Regions from separate parts of the Homo sapiens genome. Here regions 1 and 3 are each linked to region 2. Evidence: fine-mapped expression QTL. A gene starts in region 2. Each other region holds a variant in brackets. All regions are shown on one strand. Distances are between the middles of the regions.

Evidence for each region. PIP is the estimated chance that this variant, and not a neighbour inherited with it, causes the effect. A credible set is the group of variants that fine-mapping cannot tell apart.
Region 1: its variant is the best candidate, but not a certain one, in a credible set for the expression of RSPH3 in monocytes (TOPMed, PIP 0.56).
Region 3: its variant is the best candidate, but not a certain one, in a credible set for the expression of RSPH3 in unexposed skin (GTEx, PIP 0.87).

The regions. Positions count from the first base shown.
Region 1 is chr6:159,030,454-159,033,220 of GRCh38, forward strand. The region is part of intron 3 of TAGAP-AS1 (TAGAP antisense RNA 1); the gene reads left to right. Among named protein-coding and RNA genes, the nearest start is that of TAGAP, 13 kb to the right of the region's middle. The variant C/T (reference allele first, on the strand shown) is at 1,359.
Region 2 is chr6:158,999,217-159,001,980 of GRCh38, forward strand. RSPH3 (radial spoke head 3) reads right to left here and starts at 986. Exons shown (of 8, transcript NM_031924.8): 1 at 219-986. The coding sequence starts at 334. It overlaps TAGAP-AS1 (TAGAP antisense RNA 1), which reads left to right and starts at 657. Exons shown (of 5, transcript NR_183546.1): 1 at 657-1,176. RefSeq lists enhancers at 1-700, 185-334, 355-404, 435-504, 675-834 and 2 more.
Region 3 is chr6:158,977,220-158,979,945 of GRCh38, forward strand. It overlaps RSPH3 (radial spoke head 3), which reads right to left. Exons shown (of 8, transcript NM_031924.8): 7 at 1,041-1,127; 8 at 1-629. The coding sequence ends at 319. Among named protein-coding and RNA genes, the nearest start is that of TAGAP-AS1, 21 kb to the right of the region's middle. The variant A/G (reference allele first, on the strand shown) is at 1,415.

The DNA.
Region 1 (2,767 bases), 31 kb after region 2:
TGAAATCTTTAAGTTTCCTTTAAATGTGAAGTATATCCTAAAGTAATGAGACCATGAAGCAGCCATTCATTTCTACTATGTATTTTGTGTTATTATCACTCACTTGGAACTTACCTTTGCTGTCAAAGGTGTCTTATTTCTCTACTAGATTGTAAATTCCTTATACAAATGCAATATTTTTATATTGTAGGAGGCCAATATTTGTTACTAATTTATTTTGCTTAAAACTACTGTTGTATAATTGTAAAATTCTCACAGTGAGCATACAAATAATTGAAATACTCTTGAGACTGTTATCTACCTTATCTTTTTATTATTCCTAATCATATGGAACATTTTCAATGGTCTCATATTAAGTAGATAGTCTACTTTATCCTGCCTTTTTAATCATTGAGCAACTAAATTTGGATTTGTTTCGTTGTACCTACGATCTCTTTTATTTGACTTTTGTGTCAAGGCCTTGCAGTATCCATCTCCTAATTTCTTACTGATTTTGCTGGGAGAGGCAATTGGCTATAAAAACTGTATTCTTAGGTTCCTCTGCTGGTAAGAGTAGCCACGTACTGGCCGAGTGCGGTGGCTCACGCCTGTAATCCCAGCTCTTTGGGAGGCCGAGGCAGGCAGATTGCCTGAGCTCAGGAGTTCGTGACCAGCCTGGGCAACACGGTGAAACCCCGTCTCTACTAAAATACAAAAAATTAGCTAGGTGTGGTGGCATGCGCCTGTACTTCCAACTACTTGGGAGGCTGAGGCAGGAGAATGGCTTGAACCCAGGAGGCAGAGGTTGCAGTGAGCCGAGATCGTGCCACTGCACTCCAGCTTGGGCAACAGAGTGAGACTCCGTCTCAAAAAAAAAAAAAAAAAAAAAAAAAAAAAAGAGAAGCCACGTACTAAGTTCTGGCCTCTGGGATGGAGGTAGAGGTTATTGAGCAGAAAGTTCCTGCTTGGGATCTGGAGGGAAAGGTTGGGGGAAGAGGATCATGTTCCCAGAAAGGATGGTAGACTAGAAAGTTGAAGTTGTGCACAAGACTGGCTACATAATTTGCAGGGCCCAGTGCAAAGTGGAAATGCAAGGCTCCTGTTCTCAATTATTAATACTCTAAAAATGCCAATAGCAGAGAATTACCCTAGCATTGGGTCCACAGGTCATAGCCCCATGCAACTGGCTCTGAGTATGAAGGAACCCGGGGCCGGAGGAGGCCATGAGCCTTCATCCCAGCCCTGGGCTGCCAGTCTGTTCTTTTCATAGAGCGCACAAACCTCCTTCTTGGTTAAGCGTCTGTTGTCTGGGTTTTCTGTTACATGCGTTCCGTAACTGATGCAAGTTATCATTACCCTCATCTGATAGATGGAGAAAC[C/T]GGAGCTCAGACAGGTTTAGTGCCCTGTGCATGGGAGCAGATTTCGGGGTATTCACAGACTCAGGTTCTGTGAATTTGGGTCGTATATTCATTCTGTGTCAACACGTTGTCTTTCTTTTTCCACGGAGATGTTAACATTCTGCATTTCCTATTTCTGGCCAGATTTTGCATTCTGCAAGTTTGCTTGTTTCACAATGCCCCCCTCTTTGTAGCCTGTAGTAGGAGGAAGAACTTCATCCCATTTGTTTTTCCTCATTTACATTTAATTTTTACTCTGGAGTGAACATAATGCAGAAGTTCAGTCCACATTTAAAATATTGCTAAAAAGTGATTCACTTCCAATTCTAGCAAAACGTTTATACCTCTGATTCCTCAGTAATTCTCTTTTTGCAGAGGAAGAGTTAAGATTACATAATTTAATTAAAAAAGAAACTGGAAACATGTAAGATCGCATCCGATGTGAGTTTCTGTCTGACCTTTCAAGAGAGAAGCATGTATTGGCGATTTTTCCAGTGAGATCATGATCAGAAGAATTTATCTATCAATGTATACTTTTAATTTAGGATAAACCTAAGGATAAACAGTGTTTGTAGCTCTTTGCACATTCTATCTATGGCCATAGGATGTGCTATGGCCATTAACTGTCATTTGTTTTGTTAGCGCTAAAAACCATAGCTGCGACTTCAACTTCCTAGGGACCCCAGTGTAACACAGGTGTTGTATTTGTTGCGTTCAAGTTCTGGTGCAATCTTAGTTTTGCTAAGCTCCTGCAAAAGCACCTAACACAAGTCAACATTTCTGAAACAAGTTTTAATTTCTTTCAGTCCTCAGTAGTGCTGGTGTGTGGGTTGGGGGCATGGTGCACAGTGTGTCAGCACAGATAATCCGTGTATCATGGGTCATCCACCTCTCCCCCTCTTTACCGGAGGAGAGAGCATCTCCCAGGGAATCAGACCTGAATTTAAGTTTGAGCTCCTAATTAGGCTTCCAACCCGGTTTTACTATACACTTTGCATCAGGTACATCTGTGATTGTCCCATTTGTCATTAGTGTGGGCCCTTAGGAAGTCAATAGAGGACAGAACTCTGGTGTTCCTGGATCCTTGACTAAAGCATCATTTTATTGTCATCTAAATCTCACTAGAAGCCCTAGCTCTCTGGTTATGGTGAAATATTCAAATTATTGGCATATTCAAGGTATCATTAAGTAGTATTTTGAAAAACTTGGTGTTATGGGTTGAATTGTGTCTTGCCCTATCCAAATTCATATGTTGAAGTCCTAATCCCCAACATCTCAGAATGTGACTATATTTGGAGAGAGGGTCTTTACAGAGGTAAAATGAGGTCATTAGGTTGTGTCCTAATCCAGTATAACTGGTGTCCTTAGAAGAAGGGGAAATTTGGAGACAG
Region 2 (2,764 bases):
CTCATATCACTAAAAGTTAACTGATGCCCAACCCATGCCCCTTCCTGCTTCACTCCTCCACACCACGGGAGATTCCTTAGGGCAGAACTTTTATTTCGGCAGAGTGCAGCCAAGGGAAGACAGCATAAGCAGCTTTTTTGCCAGGGCGAAGGGGCCAGACCCCGGCCTGGGGATGGGGTGCAAGTATGGACCACACAGGGGCTGGCTTGGTCACTCACGGCTGCGTCAGGCTGTCCCGGTAACGGCTGCGCTGGCAGGGCAGTGCTCGGGGCCGGCTGGTGTAGGTGTAGGTGCTCGGGGCCCGAGAGGTGCGATCAGTCAGCGCTGAGGCCATGTCCGGGGGCTGACTGCCTCGCTTTCGGTGGAGCTTGGCTTTGAAGCAGGTGGGCGCTAAGGTGTTGTGGGACCCGGAGAGATGTAAGTAGTGCCAAGGGCAAGGATTCCGCGACGCGAGGAGAGGCGACAACAAGGGAGGCGGGCGGGACGGGAGGTTACCAGCGCAGGAGGTGGGAGCTATACTGGGCTCGCTCCCAGCACCACAGAGACCAGCTGCGGGGGCCGCATCGGTTGCCCAGCAACCCAGGGTTCTGTCTGGGGGCGGGAACTCCGGGCAGTTCCGGTCCCCAGGTTTCCCGGGAAGGACTGCGGCACAAGGGACTTCCGGCTCTTGACTCCGCCCAGCCGCGCCACCCAGGTAGGTGCGCCTGCGCTTTGCGAGGTTCCTGGCTAGGGAGGCGGCCTTGGCTGGCTTGACCGTCATCCTTGAGGCCTGCGGGGCAACGGTGGCTGTCCTTGGCCCGGCTTTGGAATGTGGCTTTGCAGGGCTGGTGTTGGCGCCATTCTCGCAGGCCCACGTGCTCCTGCTCTTCCAGGGTGTCCTCGGCTGTTTCTCCTGCCGCGGCGCAGCAGCGCTCCCAGGCTGCCCCCGCGATAACACGCCCCTGGCAGCCAGGCTCCCAGCTCTGTTACGTGCCCGGGCGGGGAAGAGCTTCCTGGTGTCTCCCGGCTCCTGCCCTTCTCCCGCCCCAGGGGCGGGCTGCCGCCGCCCTCTGCAGCTGAGTCAGTGCAGTTCCTCACCTACCTTCTCTGCTCACCGCTGTGTGCTAGCAATCGGAGGACCCTTGGCACACGGAGCGACAGGGGCCTCCCCCACAGACACCTCATTTTGGGAAAGAAGTGAGCAATTTATTGAGTCTTAAAAAATACAAAGGCATAGTTCCCCTTAATCTATCAGGCTTCCAGCTCTAAAGAATGTCTCTAGTATTGCGGGGTGGGGCTGCGCTTAAAAACGCAGACGCTTTGGTTTTAGTACCAGCAACGTTAAAAATCTTCTATCTTGTATGAGTGAATGTGTATCCCTTGTGATCAGTTATTTGCATTTGCAGTTACACCTTCATTCAGCTAATTGCTGTCTTGATTTGAATCCAGGTTCTAGAATGTACTAGCTCCGAAACCTCAGGCAAGTTAAATGTTTTTGTGCTTCATTTTCCTAATCCACAAAGTGGCAATAGAAGAATTTATCTCTTTAGGTTTTGTCTTGAGGATTAAAACCGTTAATACTTAGAGCTGTGCCTGGTAAATGGCAAGCCTTTATATTAAGATCTGGACCGTTCTGTGCTTTGAAGTGTATGACCTAAAGCAGATGTAGGCATTCTATAAGTAACACTAGCATAAAGGTGTATGGTAAATTCTAGAGGTGAAAACACTCCCAACATATTTTAGGTCTGATCATTTAATTTTGAGGTAATTTCTGAAAGGGCTAGAGGAGAAAGTGACATTTAAGTTGTGTTTGATAAATGATAGTATTTTAACTGGCCAGCCTCTTGGGGGAAGTGCATTCGGAATGGCTTGATCAAAGGCTCAAGAAGCCCAAGGTGCATTTGGAAAACTGTAAGCAAGGTTTGTGTAGATGAGTTGTAGAAATATATATAGACAGGCTGACACCACATCGTGGAAACAGTAAACACTAGCATATTAATTAGAATATTTTTTCCCTCAAGTAACAAAAAACCAATTCCAAGTGGCTGAAATAATAAGGAATTCATTATTTTACACTCCCCAGGTTGGTTAACCTGGAGGGTAACTTGGGGGCTCAGCACATTATCAACAACACGTTTTTTCCCCTACCTTTCCACTCTGTCACCTGGGTTGTTGGCTTCAACAAAGTAGTAATAGAAGTATCTGCTCTTTTGTCTTTATTGGAAGAGCAAAACCCCCTCGTAAACTCCCAACTGACCAGAATTACATCATATTGATTTAAGCTTAGGATCTATATAAGACCACCATATTTGGATTAGACCAGGTAACCGGTCTTTCTAGGCCTCCAAGAAACACTTGGCCAGGGAGGAGGAGAACAAATTCTGTTAGGAGGATGTTGGGGCAGAATTGAGTGGGTATTAAGTGGGTAAACAATAGTGCTATACCAGCCACAGTGGGCTTTATAAAGAAATTGATAGCCACTATAGGTTCTTGTACAAGTTTCTTTCTTTTTTTTTTTTTTTAGATGGAGTCTCGCTCTGTGGCCAGGCTGGAGTGCAGTGGCGCGATCTTGGCTCACTGCAACCTCCGCCTCCCCGGTTCAAGTGGTTCTCCTGCCTCAGCCTCCTGAGTAGCTGGGACTACAGGCGTGTGCCACCCCGTCCAGCTAATTTCTGTATTTTTAGTAGAGGCGGGGTTTCACCATGTTGGCCAGGATGGTCTTGTTCTCTTGACCTGGTGATCCGCCCTCCTCAGCCTCCCAAAGTGTTGGGATTACAGGCGTGAG
Region 3 (2,726 bases), 22 kb before region 2:
ACTAACCCGCAAAATTAGAAGGGCTAAGGAAAAATATATTTGCTGGTTACATATAATGGTAATAGAAAGCTAGTAATTAAATATAATTCTCATTAGAATTACAATATAGCCTTTGAATATTCTATTAAATAAATGAATTCAATTTAAGTTTCATTCTCAAATTAATTTTATCACATTTGATTGGCCCAGTCCATTACACAAAAAGACATACTGACTAAATACAACATAATTTCTATAACCTGAGGGGACTCGCACATCATTACCTGATTGCTTGCTGACTTGGCTGTTGATTGGTTTCATGACTTTGAAGCTTCCCTCCTATGACAATTCTTCCTCCCCTAAGGACTTCCTCATTGCTGTTTCTTCATCTTGCCCTAAGAGTTCTCTCTCTTCCATAAACTTCCTTTCCTGGGATGACCTTCTGTCATATGTTGTTCTTTGTAGGTAGCCTCCATCTAAAAGCAGCTCCCGTGTCTGTGACATGCTCTGCTCCAGGAATTCAGAGGCCTCCAGTGACTCTGTCATTGCTCCAGGACCACCAGGCTCATCCTCGGGTTCTGGAGACTGATGTGTGTCTTCCCCATGCTCATACATACACAGCCTCTTTTCAACCACCTCACGGATCAACACTGAAAAGTTAAATGTTCAGACATCACTATGATTTTCATATTATGGTATATTTCAGGAGTTATAATGCTCACTTATAGATGATTACAAAAACCTTCACGAAGCCTCATCTCTTTCCTATGTCATAACCTTTTTTGGAAGTCAGCATACTTCACACTTAATGCATTAAATATAAAATATATTCTGTTTTCACAGAGTATCATTTATAAAGTAATGGCAGAAGATATTAATAGATAGCAAATTATAGAAGAGCCAAAAATAATATTGAGGGTAAAAATTTGCACTTTTATTAATACAATTGATATACTAAAAGTTTAAATATTCAAACTGTAAAATTAATCTTTCTTTCAGTTATTCAATTTATTCTTTCTACTAAAAACTTTAGAGATGAATTTTTGGATAAAATAACTTACTGTCAAGCACTGTTCTTCCCACCATGCTATATTCCATGGTTTTTTCAACTTCATTCATTAGCCATGGAAGAAATCCTATCTCAATATCTGTAATAAAAGAATTCATTGATTTTCATGTATTATCAGAGGAATAATGCGCTTTTCTCTTAATGTAATAGACTCATCAACATTGGTTTCTTAATATAAAATGTTAAGTAGACTCATACAGCATAACTTTTGCCATATTCCTTATATATGTTCTGGTCAGTTTCCTTTCTGTTGCATAAGTGATTTTTTATTTTTATTTTTTTATTTTTTTTGAGACAGAGGTTTACTCTGTTGCCCAGGCTGGAGTGCGGTGGCGCGATCTCTGCTCACTGCAACCTCCGCTTCCC[A/G]GGTTCAAGTGGTTCTCCTGCCTCAGCCTTCTGAGTAGCTGGGACGACAGGCACACGCCACCACACCTGGCTAATTTTTGTATTTTTAGTAGAGACAGGGTTTCACCATGTTGGCCAGGATGGTCTCAATCTCCTGACATCGTGATTCACCCGCCTCGGCCTCCCAAAGTTCTAGGATTACAGGTGTGAGCCACCACACCTTGCCCAATATTTTAAGAACTATGAGGCCTTCCTTGGAGTCAAGGCATTTGGAGTTTCCTTCATAGGTGCAATCTGAGATGGATCAGGGAGGCAGGGGGAGGATGTGGGTTTGGGAGAACTCCAATCCAAATGCAATGCAAATCTGGGATTGAGCAATGCCAGTAAAAGAAAGTCTCCACCTGAAGCCCAGGGCCTAATGGAAGGAAGCTGATCAGACTCAGAGAATGCAGTGAGAGGGCATTTGAGGAGGCAGTCATCTAGAAATAGGTCAGAAACTAGGTGTTTCCATCAGTATCAAGTTTGTTCAAACTGAAATCTACTGTGTAAGCATTTTAAAAATATGGTCTATTACAATATACATTTTAAAGTTTCAAAATAGCATTTTTTGGGGCAGGCATCTAATTTTATTTTTCAATAGGATGAAATGGAGAGTGATAGAATATTATATTCACTACTATAAATAATTTTTATCTCAGGTATGAATTTCATTTGCAAGCTTTTAAATGATCTATAACTTACTTTTTTGGTAATCTGTGATAGAAAAAAGGCTACTGGTCTCTCTGGCTAACAGTTAGAGTCCAAGCTAGAGCCCAGGACAGCAGGATGATAGCCGAGAATGAACACTGGACTTGGAGTCTGAGTTCCAAGTCAGTTTGAGGCCTAATATTTCCACTGCCTGAGGATTTGGGAGCAAGGCATTTAACTTCTCTGAGCTTCAGTTTCTATTTCTGAAAAAATGGGAATTCTATCTGACCTGTCTATCCTACAGGGTTATTGAGAGTATCAAATGATATCACCTATGAAAAATACTATGTATATTAATAATATTTGTCTGTGATCTGACCTCTTTGTATTGAATTGAATATGTAATCAGTGAAAATTATCATTACTAACATGTGTCCCAAGATACTACTGGCCAACAAAATAGGACCTATACACCAAGCACGGTGGATGTAAGTGCTTTTCACTCTGAGGAAGGTGGGTGGTGGTGAGGACATGCAACTCTTCCTTTCCACTGGCTGAGCAGCTAGGAACGTGGACTTTGAGGGGATACAGACAGACAGCTATCAGGCTATGGGCTCCCTAGTGGCAGAGATCAGGGATCCTTCTT